2 separate regions of the Homo sapiens genome follow, and region 1 is linked to region 2. A link means that fine-mapping ties the variant in region 2 to the expression of a gene that starts in the linked region. Tissue or cell type: whole blood. Region 2 holds a variant in brackets; the other region holds the start of a gene. All regions are shown on one strand. Distances are from middle to middle.

Region 1 (11,318 bases), 24 kb after region 2:
TAGTTTAGAAAGAATTTTACATAATTGATGATGTTCTCTCACCGTAGAATGTAGAAAAGTTTTAACCAAAGAGAAACCCTATATTTTCACTTGGTATTAGGTTTTAGATTCCGGAGGAAGGGCCTGGAAAGAAGGGCTATGGGGTTTATTTGTGTTGCCTACTTATAAGTTTTCTTTTAAGCAATAATATATTCAGTTAGAGGCTATTTTGAGAGTTCAATCGTGTCCTTTTCAAGAAAATGCAAAGCCAATGGAAAATTACAACTGAAATTTTTAACAAGAAAAACCACCACCATTTAGGAATTGGAGCACAGGATTTTTTTTTTTTTAATAAGCAAAACCATCTCAACGAGGCTGCTTTCTTCACTAAATTCAATAATAGCCAGCAAGTCGCTATTTTGTAGTCACTATTTACTAATCTTGATTTTTATAGGCACAGGCCTAGAATAAGAAAAAGATCCACTGCACAGCCCCACATTACCACATACCAAGATACTTTAAGGCAACTTTTTAAAAATGTAGAAAAAATTCAAAATCAGACCATAAATAAGTCTGTTTTGGCAGCAGATAAAGAAGGGAATGAAAAAAAAAATAAAGCCCTATTTCTCATTTCATTTGCAATAAAAACCATTTAAGAAAGCTGTGACGTGCCCCCAGAGGTTTAATTGTAGTTATATAGCCTGATTAAAGCCAGTAGAGATTTCTACACCAATTTACTGACGCATTTCTAGATCGCCACACTCACAAGGCTAGCACCCGGAATGCTCTGGTGAAACAAACAGCCTAGTGTATAACGCTCATAGAACAGTGCCTTGCACACAGTAAGCACTCATAAAATCTTAACTATTATTTTTATCCAGTCACCAAGGTAAACTTCCTGCTTCCGGGTCCAGCCTCAGCCATACAGTAAAGTAACATTTGAGTCAGTCTTCAATGACAGAAGTGTAGGCTTAGAAAAGAGTGGCAGAGGCTCAGACAGCTTAGGTTACTCATCCTGGGGGTGGGCGGTGAGGGGGTGGTTGCTGAGGAAGGCTGTGCGGGTGCCTGAACCACCACTTCCTTGAAGCATTCTTGGATCATCCCAATTCACGCCAAGCTCTTTCCTTGCATTTTAAATCTGCCCCAGCATATTTAACACTTGCCATTCCCCTTCTATTTTATATAATTTCAACATTTTTGAGAAGGGGTCCTGCTTTAAGCTTATCTTAAATCCTCCCATGATCTCACTCCTGGACACATGGCTGGGACTGGATTTGTAACATTCTACACTGGAGAAGGTTGGAGTCCTAGACCACAGAGAAGATGGCCAGCTGAGTCCAGAATAGGTGTGCTGTGTGGACAAGACTTGGTCAACACGAAACAATAACCCCAGGCTGAAAACCACCAAATGCATCCTTCATCCCGGGCTCTTGTTTGGGCCGTTTGCAGAATGGTCTGTGGAATTAGAGAAGTCAGTCTACCATGTCTCTGTAGTTCTCTGTTTCACGGTCCCTCCCCGCTTAAGGGCCTGCCTTTTGTTTTCTCATAACAGGAGAGGCATTCAGCTTCACCTGTGCAGGCAGGCACGCAGTCCAAACCTGACATCACGGGGAAACATCACCAAGACCAAAAACAGTGAGGATATTTGAGATGACAAACCCAGACCACAGAAGGCCAACTGCTTTTAAGAAGTTGCAGGCTTCTCATGCTAAGCAGGGAAGGGATTGTTTACAGTTGCTGGAAAAAAAAATACCCTGCAAACAAACAGCCAGCTGCTTTGCTAGGAGGCTACCAAATGATTCCTAAACGCTGACTCAAAGGACCACAGGTGGTCAGTATATCAATGACTATTTGCGGTAATGATGATGGATGTGACAGCTCCAGCTCAGGTGTGAAATGGGAAGAAAAAGAGGCTCATGAACAGGACACGGGAGGGGGGCTGTGCAGGAAACCACCTGATTCCAGCCCAGTCTAAACTTTTGTGGTAAGTTAAGACCATCTTCAGGTCTTCCATACTGTGAAGACAGAGATACCACTATTTCTAAAGGAGAGTGACACCAGTTTCTCTCCTGATGCCGGTATAGGGTATTTTAAAACAAATTTTAAATTTTTATTTATTTTTAGAGACAGGGTCTCGCTCTGTGGCCCAGGCTGGAGCGCAGTGGCACAGTCATGACTCGCTGCAGCCTTGAACTTCTGAGCACAAGCCATCCTCCCACCTCAGCCTCCCGAGTAGGGTAAGTATTAATACGACCCTACATTTTAAATCTTCTGCTGAACTCAATCATCTGTTCTCCACTGAGGAGCATCCTGCAATTATATTTGGGTGAGCAGCTCTAACATGACTCTTCAGACCCTTTCGGCACTTTTCTAGAAAGAACCTGAACTTGTATACAGAAATAAAGTACCAACATATTAGATCATTGTCCTTAGGAACAAGGAGGAAGGAAGGAAGGTTCCCATTTTGTTGAGGGAGAATAATTTAGGCATAATTGGTAACTCCAGTCGATAAAAGACATAGTCTGTCAATAGCAGTTGGTCTTACTTTCCCGTAAATAAATTACTTGATTTTACGTAAATAAGATTTCCTTATGGTGGTCCCTAAACTCCCCTGGGACAGCCTCCAAGTAACTCCAACGTAAATGGTTATATGCTGGTGGTTAATACGCTCAAGTCTCTCCGGACAGACCCCCAGAATTAAATAATGTCTTTCTTTACATTGTGAGACAATGGGAATTTGATGCATTACAAATCACAAACAAATGGGAGGCACGGGAGTTCAAGTTGCCAAAATAACCACATTTTCTTGATAGTTTTCTCAAAATTTATTGCCAATGCTTCATCCAAGCAACGACTGGTAAATCTCAGTAAGCGGGAACCTGGCCCAGAAACAGAATTCTCCATTGAAGTCAATTTAAGGGTGCAGGGGCCCATGGTTTTAACCAAAGGTGGCAGGAAAAGGCTCCCAAGGGTGACTCTGGCTGCACCAGTCCATTCTGGAATCACTTTCATCGCCCCCGCTCACCGGGCTAAATGCTGAGAGTCTCTGAAAGTCAACTGTCGAGGTCAGGGGCTGAGAAATTCCAGGCTACCTTGCGTACTAGCCGGCGCTGGCATCGTTAGCCAAGCTGAGCAGGGAGCGCAGCGGACCTCAGGTTTCCCGCCAGACCACAGAGCTCAGGTGAGGCCTCGAATCCAGAGGCTCACCGGGGCCAGGCAGGCTTTTCGCAGCTGACAGGCACCCCTGGAAACGGAGTGCACTCTATACAAAGCAGACCGACCGAGAGGGCCACCGAGGAAACAGGTGCAAGAGCCCTGTCCTCCCAGAAGCAGAGCTCTTGTGGGATTCATCCCCTGCCCCCTTCCCTCCTTTGCACCTCTGCAGCCCCAAGCCTCCACCGCTCGCAAGTCCGCCCAGTAAGCGGCTGCCCCAGGGACCATCTGGCCGTCCCTTCCTGGTTACTCATCCTCCCGGCCACTTCGTGGTTGCCCGTGCCTGGGCAGGGCCTGGAAGCGCTCCAGGCGGGACCTTCGTCGGATCCCGTCACCTGTCGCGTCCACAGCGCTTGGGCGCTGGGAGCCGGGCCACCCCGCGGTGAAGGGGCTCAGCCCACCCGCCCGCGCCCCCACATGGGCAAAGTGCGCGACTCCGGTGTCCTTAAAGCAGGGACCACTAAAGCTGTGTGATTAAGTTTGAGCGAACGTTTGGGGACACGATCCGCGAATGTCATCAGACTCTCAGAGGGACCAGGTGTTCTGTAAGGAGTCGTGTCCACTTGGAGACACTGACCTTGAACAATAAGAGAAACCGAATTCCCTGTCTCCGGTGGTCCGAAGACCTCTGCAGAAATCGGGCCCCGTAGTCCCACCCTCCGGGTCAGGGTCTCCCTCCTCAGCCCGCTCCAGCCCTGCCTGCCCCTCATTCGCCGTCCCTGCGCCCCCCAGACCAGCCCGGGTCAGTTTCGCGGGGGCTGGAAGTTGGTAGCGGGTCCCCTCACCTGCTGAGGTCGCTCACGAAACTGCCGCTCTTCTCATCCAGGAAGCGCTTCCAGCCGTCGGCCGTCTTCACCCAGTTCTGCCCGGGGGACCGCCAGTCCTGCCCGAGGAATGGCATGGCACCGCGAGCGGACTAGACGGATGGGGAGACGGGGCCGGCCTGGTGGGCTCGGGGACGTGCCACCCGGGGCGGATGCTCGGGGTGCAGGGGCCCGCGACGGGGGCGGCGGGGCGGCGGGAACGGCGCGGGGCACCCTGCGGGGTGGCGGGCGCGGAGAGGATCTCAAGCGTTGCAGGCTCCGGGAGTGCTGCGCGGCAGTAGCTGCCGCAGTATTTATCCCCGCAGCCGGCCGCAGCTCTTTGTTGCCGGAAGAGCCGCCCGCTCTTAGCCCGGCCCCCCGGCCCGGAGGCCACGTGGCTTTGTTTATGGGCTCGGCTTGTTTTCCGAGGCGCCTGCGGCTCACGCTCCCCTCCCGGTTGCACAACCGCGCCGGTGGAAACTTGAAGCGGTGCTGCCGGGCCGGGTACCCCGCCGCCCCTGGCACCTCCGCGCGCCCTCCCCGCCCCCAGGACACCGTTGTCCCAGAGCGAGGCCCGGCGCTTGGAAAGATGCGCCCCGGTCTCCTGCAGCTCCCGGGCTGACGGGGTGCAGGGAGGGGGCCGGAGGGGCGTCTGGGTCCCTGCGGGGTGGGCGTGAGGAGCAGGGCCAGCCCCCCTCCTGCCCCCGAGCTATCAGGATCGACCTCCGCAGCCAGATCAGCCTCCCGGGCCGTCCGCAGAGCTGGGGCCGGCACCGCGCCCGCCGGGCGGGGAGTAGGGGGCGCAGCCTCCTGACCTCGCTCACTGCCCCAACCCCGCCCTAGCGCGCGGGGGTTGGAGCGGGGAGGAGGGACAGCCTCCCAGCCCTCCGGGCCCCTTAGCTGTCACTAACCAGTCCTCCTTCAGACCTGCCCCTGGGGCAGCAAAGGAGGGGAAGGAGAGGAAGCCCTGGGAGGTATCTGGCTCCCGCAGGTTGGGAGTGGAGAAAAAGAACAGCGCCCCTATCCTACCCGAACCCTCTAAGAGACGGGTTAAATGATGTACCCAGGGCCAATGCTACAGTACAATCTGAAACTACCCTGTTTGCTTTTACTTTTTGCTGTTGTTACAACAATCTACCCCTGTCTGCAGTGGGAACTCCATGAGAGCTGGTCTGTCTTGTTCCGGAGGCATTTCAGCCCCTGCACCCTGCCAGGCCCAGTGCAGGCCTTCAACAACTATTTGTGTGAATAAGTGAATGGATACGGGAGGCTGCTGGCATGAGGGTGGCTTCTTGCCCTTCATCACCTCTAGTTATGATGCTTTACAGCCTGGTCTATTTGGCAATTAGTTTGCACAGGACAGCAGCAGCAGAGTAAAAATCCCATACTCAAGCATTAGCTTCAAACTTCATTCTTCCATTCTTCTTTCTCTGCAGCCATCAATATCATCTAGTCCACTGACTCGGTGTAATCTTTAAGGCTCAGGCAAAGAAATTGTGTGTGCCCTATGAGGCTACATGTTGGACTGGGAAGACGTTTTTAATAAAGTTTGTTTTCAAGAAGCCAGAGCTTTCTGATTTAGATTTCCCACCGTAAATAATTTATTAGTGTAGTAATAGTAAAAAAAAAGCTTGTAAAAACATTGAAGAAGTCCCAAACAAATGTTAAACACTGTGATGGTGCTAACAAATGAGGCAGTGTTGGGTCTGGTCTCTGTTGGAGGGAATTGGTATCTGCATAATTAAGGGATGTGATTATTATTATTATTATTTTTGAGACAGGGTCTCATTGTGTCACTCAGGCTAGAGTGAGTGATCATGGCTCACTGTAGCCTCAGCCTCCCCAGCTCAAGCCATCCTCCCACCTCGGCCCCAGTCTCCAGTAGCTGAGACTACAGGCACTCACCACTGCACCAGGCTAATTTTTTATATTTTTTGTAGAGATAGGGTTTTGCTATCTTGCCCAGGCTAGTCTTAAACTCCTGGGCTCAAGTGATCCTCCTTCCTTGGCCTCCCAAAGTGTTGGGATTACAGGCGTGAGCCACCATGCCCGCCTGGGATGTGATTATGAACAATGTGGGTTAGTTATGTATTAGTAAGCTGGCTACATACCTGTAGAGACCACAGAGGGCCAGAAGGTAGAAGTTTTGAATTCTAATTCTGCTGGAGCAGCATACTACCTGTCCTCCCTTGGATGAATGACTTAAACTCTTAGGGCCCCATTTACTTAACTGTCAAGAAAAAATGGAGCCAATAATGCCTACCTTTCAGGATGGTTTAAAAGCTGTGGTAGATTGAATTATTAGTACCCATTCTTCCCTCCTTTCCAGTAGCGTCATGTGCCCACACTTTTTGGTGATGTGTATTTTTCTAATTCTTGACAATGGGCTTGGCCATATGACTGGCTTTAGCCAAGGGGATGCTGATGGATGTGATGTGAGCAGAGGATCTGATGTATGTACTTGCCTGGTTGGTCTTGATGTTTTGTGTGTTCACCTGCTCCATGAAAAGAGCATACCCTGTGTAGCCACTGCTCCTGGAGTGGTTTGAGTGACATCCGTGTGTCCCAGGATGTGACACATGGAGCAGACACTCCCGTTGACCTCACAGATGTGTTAGCAAGAAATAAATGTGTCTTGTTGATGCCACTGAGATTTTTGTGATTTACTGTTACACAGCATTATTGTGTCGATAGCTGACTACTATAAAGGGTTGAGTGGCTCAAAGTTGGTGAAAGTTTCTTTAACTTCTAAAATTCAAGCACAAATAGGAAATTACAATTATTTTTGTCCTTGTCTTTTTGTCTAATAACTAATCTTAGGAAGCCTCAGTGTTTGTCTCTAGTCCTTCCGCTTTCTGTTCCTTAAAACAAACAAACAGAATTGTTGCTATCATATCTTAATGCAGGCTTCTTCTGAAGTGTGATTGACTATTTCAGATTTCTCTTACCATAAAAAAATCTAATTTGAGACTTCTTTTTTTTTTTTGAAACAGAGTCTTGCTCTATCACCCAGGCTAGAGTGTACCGGTGCAATCATGGCTCACTGCAGCCTTGAACTCTTGAGCTCAAGTGATTCTCCTGCCTCAGCCTCCTGAGCAGCTAAGACAACAGGCGTGCACCACCATGCCTGGTTGATTAAAACATTTTTTTTTTGGAGAGATGGGGTCTTGCTATGTTGCTCGGGCTGGTCTCAAACTCTGGCCTCAAGTGATCCTCCCGCCTTGGCCTCCCAAACTACTAGGAGTACAGGCATGAGCCACCATGCTCAGCTGACACTTATTTAAACATGGTTTCTACTGGGAAGTTTTGTAATGCTGGACCCCTCAAGATAAAGAACTTGCTAGGCTATGTCCAGAACAGTTACCTTCAAATCAGATGGGGGCTTGAACTTTGTAAAGACTCTGTGATTGTAAGCCCTATCATAGCTGAGCATTTGAGAATCACCAAAAGCAAAATATCAATGTTATAGCTTCAGGCTGAAGACATAGAGACAGATAGATACTCAGAGAATTTCACAAGGCACAGCACAGACTGGTCAGGACCCCATGTAGCCTAATGGTGTGTGCAGTGTACATGATGTATGTACCATGGCTGTGTGTTTCATTGCTTAGACACTTAGCTACTGCCTTTCCTGCACTGTTTTGTATAACACATTACCCAGATTACATACTGGGTGTTTGATTTTTTGTGTTTTCTTCTCCTGTCTAGGACTGTGAGCTCCTTGATGGCAGGGCTGTGTCTTAGGAGTTTAGTGCCACAGTGTCTAATAAGGTTCTTGGTACACGGTACATTTACATCAACAAATCAACAAATGGGCCCAACGCGGTGGCTCACACCTGTAATCTCAGCACTTTGGGAGGCTGAGGCAGGTGGATCACCTGAGGTCAGGAGTTTGAGACTAGCCTGGCCAACATGGTGAAACGCCATCTCTACTAAAAATATAAAATTTAGCCAGGCGTGGTGGTGGGTGCCTGTAATCCCAACTACTCAGGAGGCTGGGGCAGGAGAATCGCTGGAACCCGGGAGGTGGAGGTTGCAGTGAGCTGAGATCGCGCCACTGCACTCCAGCCTGGGTGATAAGAGTGAGATTCCTTCTCAAAAAAAAAAAAAAAAAAATCAACAAATGTTGTTGAACTGACCTGGAAGGCTGTTATTCCCATGTCTTTACCTGTTGACATTTTATTACTTCTAGGGACATAGCAGGGTGGAGCAAAGGGAGGGTTGGCAGCCCCCAGTCCTACCTCGTATAGCTGCATTCTCCAATAGTGATGCTTTATGGGTTAGTGAGGCAGATGGGGAAGGTAGTCAAAAGGTGGTATCTTAGAAAAAATATGTTTTAATGTCCTATTCCATTGATGATAGATGCCTGCCATGCTGAGGACAGTGTGCCAGTCACTTCACAAACACAATCCTGTTACATACTCCTCATAAACCTGTGGGCTAGGAATTGCTATTCCCATTTTATAGATGAGGAAACTTCAGCTCAGAAAAGTTGAATAGCCTGCGTGAGATCACCTAGCAAATGTGGTGGGACTCCAACTGGTACCCAGGCTTATCTCTAACCCTGACTAGAGCCAGACTCACTGGGTTCAAATCACATTCCCCACCTAAAAAGCTGTGTGATCTTGGGCAAGTTACTTAACATCTCTGTACCATACTTCCTTTATTTGTAAAATGGAAATAATGATAGTACCTACCTCAAAGGGTGTTTTGAGGATTTATTGAGATAATATGTATGAAGAACTTCTAACAGTGCCAATGACAATGGGTCTTTATTGTCATTATCTTTATGCAAAGTTTACACCTCCATCTTTTACTCGGTTAAGCCATGTCCACCTTCCCCATCAAACTGTAAGTTTTGAGGGCATGGAGCGTAGCTCACTCAGCAAATTTCCAGATGTGGGACAAATGTGTCTATTGGGGTACAAGTATAATGAAATAATTCCTTGCATCTTACTTGAACTATGGAAATGGGCCTTATTCTGTAGAACATGTGGAAGATTATATTTTCTTTTTCTTTTCTTTTCTTTTTTTTTTTCTGAGATGGAGTCTCACTCTGTTGCCCAGGCTGGAGTGCAGTGGTGTGATCTCAGCTCACTGCAACTTCCGCCTCCGGAGTCCAAGCAATTCTCTGCCTCAGCCTCCCGAGTAGCTGGGATTACAGGTGCCTGCCACCACACCCAGCTAATTTTTTTTCTATTTTTTTGTATTTTTTTGAGACGAAGTCTCACTCTTGTCCCCCAGGCTGGAGTGCGATGGCGTGATCTCGGCTCACTACATCCTCTGCCTCCTGGGTTCAAACGATTCTCCTGCCTCAGCCTCCCGAGTAGCTGGGATTACAGGCACCTGCCACCATGCCTGGCTAATTTGTGTATTTTATTTTATCTTTTTTTAGTAGAGACGGGGTTTCTCCATGTTAGCCAGGCTGGTCTCGAACTTCTGACCTCAGACCTCAGGTGATCCGCCCGCCTTGGTCTCCTGAAGTGCTGGGATTACAGGCGTGAGCCACCGCACCTGGCCTTTTTTTGTATTTTTAGTAGAGATGGGGTTTCACCATCTTGGCCAGGCTGGTCTTGAATGCCTGACCTCGTGATCCACCCGCCTCAGCCTCCCAAAATGCTGGGATTACAGGGGTGAGCCACCGTGCCTGGCTAGAAGACTGTATTTTCAAAGGTACACACAACATAAATTTAGCCCGTCCACTTCCTCATAAGACTGTTTACAGAAATTGTTTGTAGAAAGGACTGTGAAAAAAACATTTTGTTGCTTCTAAACCAAAATGACATTCGTTTATAGCTTTGGCTGAGGGACTGACTACTTCTCACTGAAGTGCAATGATATTTTGTTTTTTCATAGTTTCTCTTTCTGAAAGGGTTTTTTTTTTTTGGTGAAAAATACTTATCAGCAGTAGTTGTAAGTTAAAAATAACTTTAGCTTGTCGGGTAGGGCAGGAGCAGAAATCAACTAAATCTGTTGAAGTTAGAGGGAATTTTATAAAGGAGGAGCTAGAGGAATTCAGTGTATTAAATTCAACCTGTTAGTGTGGTCACAAGGAATGTATGTTTAATGTCACAACAATTTGCATATGACCTTAAACCCCATCTGTCTAGGGTGGGGCATCCCTGAAACAGTGTGAAATACGTCTGTTAGGTGTGTGAGCAGGAATGGCCAGCTGTGTGTTATTTTTGGGTCTCTGGCTGCCGCAAGTCCTGCCAACTAAATTAAAGGCGGTCAGACATATGTCATTGAAAATATGCTCATTACTTTAATGAGAATCATTTGGCATTCCTCAAATGTGGGCCTGGTTCTCTTTCTGAGAGAGGGTCAAGGGGATTTTGTAATCCTCCTCCCTTTGTAGGCCAATTGCTCAGTTTTAATGAAAGTTCTTTTTTTTCTCTTAATAAATAGCAAAAAGAATTTGAAGACAAGGCTGCTAACTTTTGTGTAATATAAGGAAATGAATGAAACCACAACATTCCCATCAATAGGCCAAATTTCTAGTGTATCTTTACAAAAAGAATTTAAAGTGAGGATGTTAAATTTGTTACCGTCGATTTGTAGGTTAAATTTGTTATGGATGCAAAGCTTTCAATACAATATTAGTGCCTGAAATTGGTTAAAACCAGCCTATCAATAATCCTTCAAACGGTATCTTGGATGACTGAGTGTCAAATTTTAGTTCTGAGATTTTTCATATGCAAAAATAGCTTGGACTGAAATTTGTCTAGATATGTGTCTGGTGGTTTACTTATATCAACAGTGTTCATATAACTTTGCAAGGTAGATATTTTTATTCCCATTTTACAGATGAAGAGACTGAGGCTCAGATGTGTTAACTTACTCATAGGTCTGCTTAAAAATCTAACAGGAGCTGAGTACAGTGGCTCATGCCTGTAGTCTCAGCGACTTGAGAGGCTGGGGCAGGAAGATCGCTTGACCAACCAGGAGTTTGAGACTAACCTGGGCAACATAGCGAGACTCTGTCTTAAAAACAAAAACAAAATTAAAAAAACCCAGAATAGATCTTAGAGGTGACCTAGTCCAATCCTCCTTTACCCATGAGAAAGCTAAGGCTCACAGAAGAGAGACTCACTGAGGTACACAGAGCTACCTGGTAGCAGCAGAATTGGGCACCATGAGACCAAACCAGCAGGGACAGAATATTCCATTACACTTACTGTTCTGACCAATGTCCCTGAGAAATGTAATTTTGAAGTAAAATTCAAATAATCTGATTTACACATTCCAGTAACTGAATTTTTTCAGGACTTCTCATCTAATGAGTTTAGTCCAAAGAACACAAGAAAAACAATAACAGGTACT
Region 2 (8,000 bases):
GCTTGAACTTCTTCCTTATTGGCACTGACTGCTCTCAAGGCACCTAAAGCCCATCTTCAGCAGCCATGTGCACTTTTTCCATGGAAGTGGAGAGTCTTATCCTGATACCTCCTGCTTCTGCAGTGTTCAATAAACATGTCTATTAATTAGACTCTTTCACTGCACTTACATTTCTGTAGAAAGACGCCAATCACAGGAAGAGAGAGAAATTCAGGGATGTATTTTATATGATGTCACTGTGGCTAAAAACTTGGATCCTTGTAGCTCTTGGCCTTAGATTCAGGTCTTGATTTGAACATGTATTAGCTCCGTGATGATGGGCAAGTTACTATATTTCTTGGTGCCCCACCCAGTTTGTTCATCTATACTAATAATATTTAGAGTCTTTAATACAAGGTTGAGTATTTAATACCTTTAATACAAGGTAGAGTCAATAATACAAGGTTGTTGTGAGTGATAATAGGAGAATGCACATAAAGCCCTCAGCAAGTACCTGGCACTAATTAGGTGCTAAATAAAGGGTTTTCTTTGTTTTGTTTTTTGAGACGGCATCTTGCTCTGTTGCCCAGGCTGGAGTGCAATGGTGCAATCTCAGCTTACTGCAACCTCCGCCTCCCAGGTTCAAGTGATTCTCCTGCCTCAGCCTCCTGAGTAGCTGGGATTACAGGCATGTGCCACTACGCCTGGCTAACAGTTTTTTTTTTTTTTTGTATTTTTATTGGAGACAGGGTTTTGCCACGTTGGCCAGGCTGCTCTCGAACTCCTGACCTCAGGTGATCCACCTGCCTTGGCTTCCCAAAATGCTGGGATTACAGGCATGAGCCACCGCGCCCCGCCAGTTTGTTTGTTGAAAAAGTATGTCCCATTCCTACCAACCCCATAATTGCCAGACAAAAATAAATGAAGATAATAACTGAAGTTAGTGCGTACTTAGTCCAATCTTTTTTACCTTCTATAGCAAAATTCTTTACTGACATGGCAAGATTAAAAAACAAATAAAGGCCAGGTGCGGTGGCTCATGCGTGTAATCCCAGCACTTTGGGAGGCCAAGGCAGGTAGATCACGAGGTCAAGAGTTCAAGACCAGCCTGGCCAACATGTGAAACTCCATCTCTACTAAAAGTACAAAAAATTAGCCGGGCATGGTGGCACATGCCTGTGCTCCCAGCTACTCAGGAGGCTGAGGCAGGAGAATTGCTTGAAGCCAGGAGGCAGAGGTTGCAGTGAGCCGAGATCGTGCCATTGAACTCTCGCCTGGGCAACAGAGCAAGACTCCATCTTAAAAAATAAAAAATAAAAAACAAAGATCCTATTGTTGAAAAATGAAACTTTAGACTGGAAGGAATCTTAAGAGACCATCTAGTTTAATCCACTTAACAGATGAGCAAAGCGAGGCTCAAGAGACCCACCTTATGAGCCACTCCACAACTAGTGAGGACTCAGCAGAGTCCTTCTCAACACAGGAAAATATCACACTTCATGCTTTCAAAGAGTTAACAAACAAAAGAGGTTGATATAAAGTGAAAGTAATTAACTTCACGAGAACCCACCAGGCCCCCAGAGAAAACTATTAGGCTGGTGCAAAAGTAATTGTGGTAATAACTAGCCTGAGACTCAGTAGACTAGACACAGAGAACCGAGACCCCTCCTTTACACTGAAGCTAGAATCTCCGCTCCTAGGAAACTTTCTAAGAGAGTTTCATCTCCTGGCCAGGCCTCAGCCCAGCTTCATTTCAGATCAATAAACACTGAGCATGACACTGTGGTGGGTGCTGGAATCAAGGCTGAGGGAAGAAGCAAAATGAAATTTTAAAGATTGGGTTGCAGAGGAGAATGGAAACTTTTGGATCAACGGCCTAGGCAATTCAGAGCACCTCTGCTTCCATGGCATTTGCATAACATGTTTGTCCCCGTGGAGCTCTTTAGGAGCCTGTTAAACCACACACAGACTTTTAATTTCCTGAATGTAATTTTACTTTACATATTAAAAAAAGCCACCCCCAAACCAAACTCCTTTTTCTCCCTGGCTTCTGTATCTTTTCCACATGCAGGGAGAGATGAGGCTAGCTGACTGGGAGGAGGAGGTGGTTTGTTGCAATTAGTACTGGTGATCTAGTTGGAAGTCAGGAGCTCACCGAGTGTCTGCTGAAAGAGGCGGGAAATCAAAACACCAGTAGAGACCATGGCCATGGGCGGTGACCACACCGAATGCTGTGGTTTAGCTTTGCCACCAACCAGCACGTGACAGTCAAGAGAGGAGTGAAAATGGCACAAAGGGACTGGCCAAACCTTTCATTTACCTCCCTGACCAACAGCAAGATTCGGAAGGCCAAGATGATGGTCTATTAATACCCTGATCCTCACATGACCAACATGAAGCAGATGAAAGAAAACAAAAGCCTCGGGTCGGCTTTTGAAGGGCAGTCAGCTGTGCACTGTGACTCATCACTGGGTAGGAGGTGGGGCAAGGGGTTGGGAGGAAGGCAGCCAGAGCTCTGCCTGAAATCCATCCAAAACCCAGATTCCATGTGACTACCATCTCATGAGGGTGTCAGTTTTAATCTTGTCAAAATATGCACCAATCACAAGGACAAGTAAACTCTCAACACTATGACTGTGCACTGGAGGAGAAACGAACTGTCTTTGGTCTGATTATCTTCTCTAAGGAGAAGGAGGAATATAGCAGCAAAAATTTGTCAACTGACAGCATAACGACATGTTAACCATTCTGTGCTTCATCCTATCTCAAGGGAAAGTCCCCCCTACCTTTTTTTTTTTTTTTAACTGTCAGACAGCTGTGGAGTCAGGAGAAAGAACCCTGGAAGAGGAGAAGACCTGGATTCTCTAGCTGGGTGACCTTTGTAACTGTCATTCATTTAGCAAGTATTTTCTGAGTGTCCACCCTGTGCTAGCATCGTGGTAGGTGACAGGGACATGATGATGAAGACACATGATCCCTACACTCATGGAGTTTGCTCTTCAGCCTAGAGTGTAAGTCATTTAATCCCTCTGAACTCCTGATTCTTCATTTCTAAAATGGAAATAAAAAGACTACTTACTTCACAGGATTGCTATGAGAATTAAGTAAGATAAATATGTACAAATCCACAGTAAATACCAAACATAAGGCATTTTTATTATAAGATATTATTTCTTTCCCTTTAAACTCCAGTCTTTTTGTGAAGTTTAAAGTTGACATCAGGGGTTAGCAAACTTTTTCTGCAAAGTGCCAAACAGTAGGTGTTTTAAGGTTTGTGGGCCACGTGGTCTCTGTAGCAACTACTCCACCCTGAAGCTATAGCACCGAAATGGCTATAGACAATGTGTAAATGAGTGGGCATGGGTGTATTCCAATAAAACTTTATTTACAAAAGCAGGTGGAGGGCCAGATTTGGCACCTGGGCTATGTCACAGTTTCTGGTATATATCATAAGAGTTTAAGAGTGAGGGCTCCAGAGGCAAACTGTCTGCCTCAGTTTTCCCATCTTCAAAATATGCACAGTAATAGTACCTACTTCAAAGTTGCTGTGAAGATTAAATGTATTCACATAGCACTCATAACTGTGCCTGCTACAAAGAATATACTCGATAAATTATTATTGTTAGCTTTTACCATAATACAGAGCATTACCAAGTAAAATTATTGCCAATCAGGAAATAGTGAGTTAACAGGGCAAAGTGCAACCCATTTAAAGACCTTCAGAATTGCTGTATTTCAATTGTAGCTGTTGTCAAACAAATAAATAAATGCTTTCACACTGTAATATTCCTTTCTGTCATTTTACTATGTTGGTGATACATTTAATAGCACCCTATCTGTTGATAAAAGTTAATGCTGATACATTTTATGACTTGCATAGTTTTTCTACCATGGAGTCTTATTTTGCTAACAATAACAATAACAATGGGGTGCTTACTATGTGTCAGCAACTGCAGCTAAGCACTATACATTTGTAATCTTGTTTATCTTTTACAGCAACCCAGTGAGATAGCTTCTCCATTTAACCATTGAGGATATTGAGGCTCAGAGAAGTACTCACCTAAAGCCATACCAGCAGTAGCAAATGCTGGAGCCAGGACTTGAGCCCAGATATGTCTAACAGAGAACACATTTTCTTTTTTTTTTGTTGAGACAAAGTCTCACTCTGTCACCTAGGCTGGAGTGCAGTGGCACAGTCATGGCTCACTGTAGCCTTTACCTCCGAGGCTCAAGCTATCTTCCCACCTCAGCCTCCCAAGTAGCTGGGACCACAGGGGCACAGCACTATGCCTGGCTAATTTTTTTTATTTCTATTTGTAGAGACAGGGTCTTCCTAGTTACCCAGGCTGGCCTCGAACTTGTGGGATCAAGCGATCCTCGTGTTTCAGCCTCGCAAAGTGCTGGGATTACAGGCATGAGCCACTGTGCCTGGCAGAACATATATTCTGACAGTTTCAGGACTTCAGTTTGTCAAGGCCAATCAATTTGCATGGAGGGCCAAATTTTACTCCAAAATGGGAGCAATACCATTTATTGTTATGTTCTGGGGAAACAGAGTCTAGAAAATTTTATATAATATTGGGCTGGGCGTGGCGGCTCACGCCTGTAATCCCAGCACTTGGGGAGACTGAGGCAGGCGGATCACGAGGTGAGGAGATCGAGACCATCCTGGCTAATGGTGAAACCCCATCTCTACTAAAAATACAAAAAATTAGCCGGATGCGGTGGCGGGTGCCTGTAGTCCCAGCTACTCAGGAGGCTGAGGCAGGAGAATGGCGTGAACCCGGGAGGCAGAGCTTGCAGTGAGCTGAGATCACACCACTGCACTCCAGCCTGGGCGACAGAGCAAGACTCCATCT[C/CA]AAAAAAAAAAAAAAAAAAGAAATTTTATATAATAATATGTTGTGACTGGTAAACAACTTTTAATATTAAGGGCACTGTAATGCTCAGAAAGTGCTACCAGCACATTTAGGATGAGGCAACTGCTTTGGGTAAACCACAGAGTCTACTTTCCACATCAGCATCACTCTATAGGCCCAGAGCTACTACTAGGTAGTGATGTATGGAACTAGTAGTGAAGAGAGCAGAATTTACCGATTTTTAAATTTTTTAATTTTTGAGACAGAGTCTTGCTCTGTTGCCCAGGCTGGAGTGTAATGGCGTGATTTCGGCTCATTGCAACCTCCACCTCCCAGGTTGAAATGATTCTCCTGCCTCAGCCTTCTGAGTAGCTGGGATTACAGGCACCCGCCACCACACCTGGATAATTTTTGTATTTTTAGTAGAGATCGAGTTTCACCATGTTGGCCAGGTTGGTCCTGAGCTCCTGACCTCAGGTGATCTGCCTGCTTTGGCCTCCCAAAGTGTTGGGATTACAGGCGTAAGCCATCGCGCACAGCCCAAATTTATCGATTTTATTTGTGTTAAGAGAGCTGCGTGCCTAGGAAAGTAGGTTTGTATCTAGCAATCTGTGTACCAGGATGACTTAGCCAATTGGATTCTTTGCCCCTAGCCACAAGAGAAAAAAAGAACAGAGGAAAATGTCTTGTTTGGAAGTGGCTGCTTGTTTTTGACTGGGCAAATTTTAGCCCAGGTGCTAGTAATTTGTGGCTATGTTTAAAGAGAGGCAGGGGGAGGGAAGGGGAAGGAGGAGGAGGCTTCTCGGCTCCTCTGGAATTCCGTGGTGTCATTATCGTGTGGGCACTCTGGGCATCCGGCATGATCTGCAGTGACGAGCCGTGCAGTACCAGGAATGGCTCTGAGCTACTGGAGGGAGGGATGGTGGTCACCGCATGCTGAAACCACATCCTGCCCTTCAGCTTTGGCTCATGCTAGTTCTGGAGGCAACGAATAGGAGACAAATCTAGTTGCAAGCAATATCGTATAGCAAATCTCAGAGCGGATATCAACCAAAGTTTGAAGTGGTGTGTGCAAGACGAATGGGCAGAAGAGAGATTTCCCTCTTATCTCACTGCTCTCGTATCAAGAGCAGGCTTCTTACGTCTTCTTCCCTACAGTTTATTTTAGCATAGCATTCATAGTTTTAAAAATCCATCAGTTCACGTTACTTCTTTGCTTAAAATCCTCAAATGGCTTCTCCTTGCGCTTAGGAAAAAACTCAAGCTCCTTACCATGACTGGCAAGGTTCTCCCTGATCTGGTTTCTACCCCTTTTCCAGCCTAGTTTTGCACAAATTCACTCTGCTCCGGCTACACAGGTTATTCGTCTCTCGAATAGGCCAAGCTTATTCTCACCTCTGGGCCTTTGCCTCTGCCACATCTTTACATGCTCGGCTCCATCCCATCCCTCAGGTCTCAGTTCAAACGTGGCCTGCCCCGGGCTCAGAGGGCCCTTCCCTGGCCATCTTATGCAAAAACCTCCCTGTTGCCATCTTCACCTTACTATGGTTTCATTGTTCTTCATTGTTGCATTTATGCATATCTGAATTGGTCTTGTTCACTTACTTGCTGATAGGCTAATTAGGATGGAACCCTCAAGACAGCAAGTGTTGTCCTGTTTCCCACTCTACCCCCAGCTTGGCACATGGTAAGCACTCAACAAATAGTGTTTTTTAAAACATACATTTGTCTTTTTGAATCAAAGAGTGTTGTAGCTGGAAGGGACTCAGGAAACAGTTTACCCGAATTTCCTCCTGCTATAGATGAGGTGGCTCATGATGGCCAAATGACACATCAAGGTCAATGGTGGACCATCTGGCTGGTCAGGCTGATATCTATATGGAGACTAGTTCCAGACTGATGCCCCAGGAGTGGCATGGGCCTAGGAGTAAATTATTTATAATGCAAACATATCTCAAACACTTTCCAGAAGGGCAAGCAGCCTGAGATCTGGAGGGACAGTAAACACTTGGGCTTTCAGAAGCATCAACAAAAATAGCAGCTTCCTCTACCTGTTAGTTTAAAAGGACAAAACCACAAGGCTGCTGCCTAAGCATGCTCTATCATTCTCATACAGAATTGTTAAGAATGAGAACACAATTTATCCCCAAATTCCTTATCTCGTATAACAGTGGGGTGTTACAGTATGAAGTATGTGTCTGACTGGAAAATCTGCCAGAGTTATCAAAGGCAGAAACGAGTCCCAGCCTCAAGCAGCCTTGCCATGCCTCACATGCTCAATACCCAAGTTGGGTGCCCATCTATAGGAAGGTTGCGTCTTCTATAATAAACCTTTAGTTAGACTAGGCAGTGTCTCTCTCTGCTCTGAGTGCTGGGTACTTCCAAGACCCTTATTTACTCAATGAATAACACAGATAAAAAACCTGGAAAGTTTTGTTCTGACTTTGAGCTTGAACACTGACAGGTTGAAAGAGAAAAAAATTTCAGCGACATTAATAATCTGCAGGCATGTCAAGATTGGATAAATATTATTTGCAAGTGAAACAGCTCTCTTTTAACAGAGGGAGTTAAAATAATAAGGAGAGCCAAGTTTACATGCATTAATTGTATTCTCAGCAGAGAGAGACTTGCCTCTTCATCTTTTACCCATCCTGGTTACTTTTTTTTTTTTTTTTTTTTTTGAGATGGAGTCTCACTCTGCTGCCCAGGCTGGAGTGCAGTAGTGTGAGCTGGCTCACTGCAACCTCTGCCTTTTGGGTTCAAATGATTCTCCTGCCTCAGCCTTCTGAGTAGCTGGGACTACAAGTGCCTGCCACCATGTCCGGCTGATTTTTGTATTTTTAAGAGAGACGGTGTTTCACCATGTTGGCTAGGCTGGTCTCAAACTCCTCACCTCAAGTAATCCACCTGCCTCGGCCTCCCAAAGTATTGGGATTACAGGTGTGAGCCCCCACACCTGGCCCTGGTTACTTTTGAGTTGACAATGGCAGTTTATTCCCCATTACATCCATCTAACAGCGATGTCTGGCTTGGCGATCTTCCTTAAACTGAGCTCCCATCTATTCCAGCAACTGTCACCTCTGCCCTATGGTTCTATAGGCTGAATGTCACATCGCCATTGGCCCCTGACCCACAATCATTCCCCTTCACTTTTGTTCCTTCCCA

What was found. PIP is the estimated chance that this variant, and not a neighbour inherited with it, causes the effect.
Region 1: it holds the start of FBXO32, and the variant in region 2 is fine-mapped to the expression of FBXO32 in whole blood (INTERVAL, PIP 0.96).

The regions. Positions count from the first base shown.
Region 1 is chr8:123,536,922-123,548,239 of GRCh38, forward strand. It overlaps FBXO32 (F-box protein 32), which reads right to left and starts at 4,285. Exons shown (of 9, transcript NM_058229.4): 1 at 3,978-4,285. The coding sequence starts at 4,093. RefSeq lists silencers at 4,182-4,271, 4,322-4,431, 4,522-4,811.
Region 2 is chr8:123,514,712-123,522,711 of GRCh38, forward strand. All of the region lies in intron 4 of FBXO32 (F-box protein 32), which reads right to left. Among named protein-coding and RNA genes, the nearest start is that of FBXO32, 22 kb to the right of the region's middle. The variant C/CA (reference allele first, on the strand shown) is at 4,839.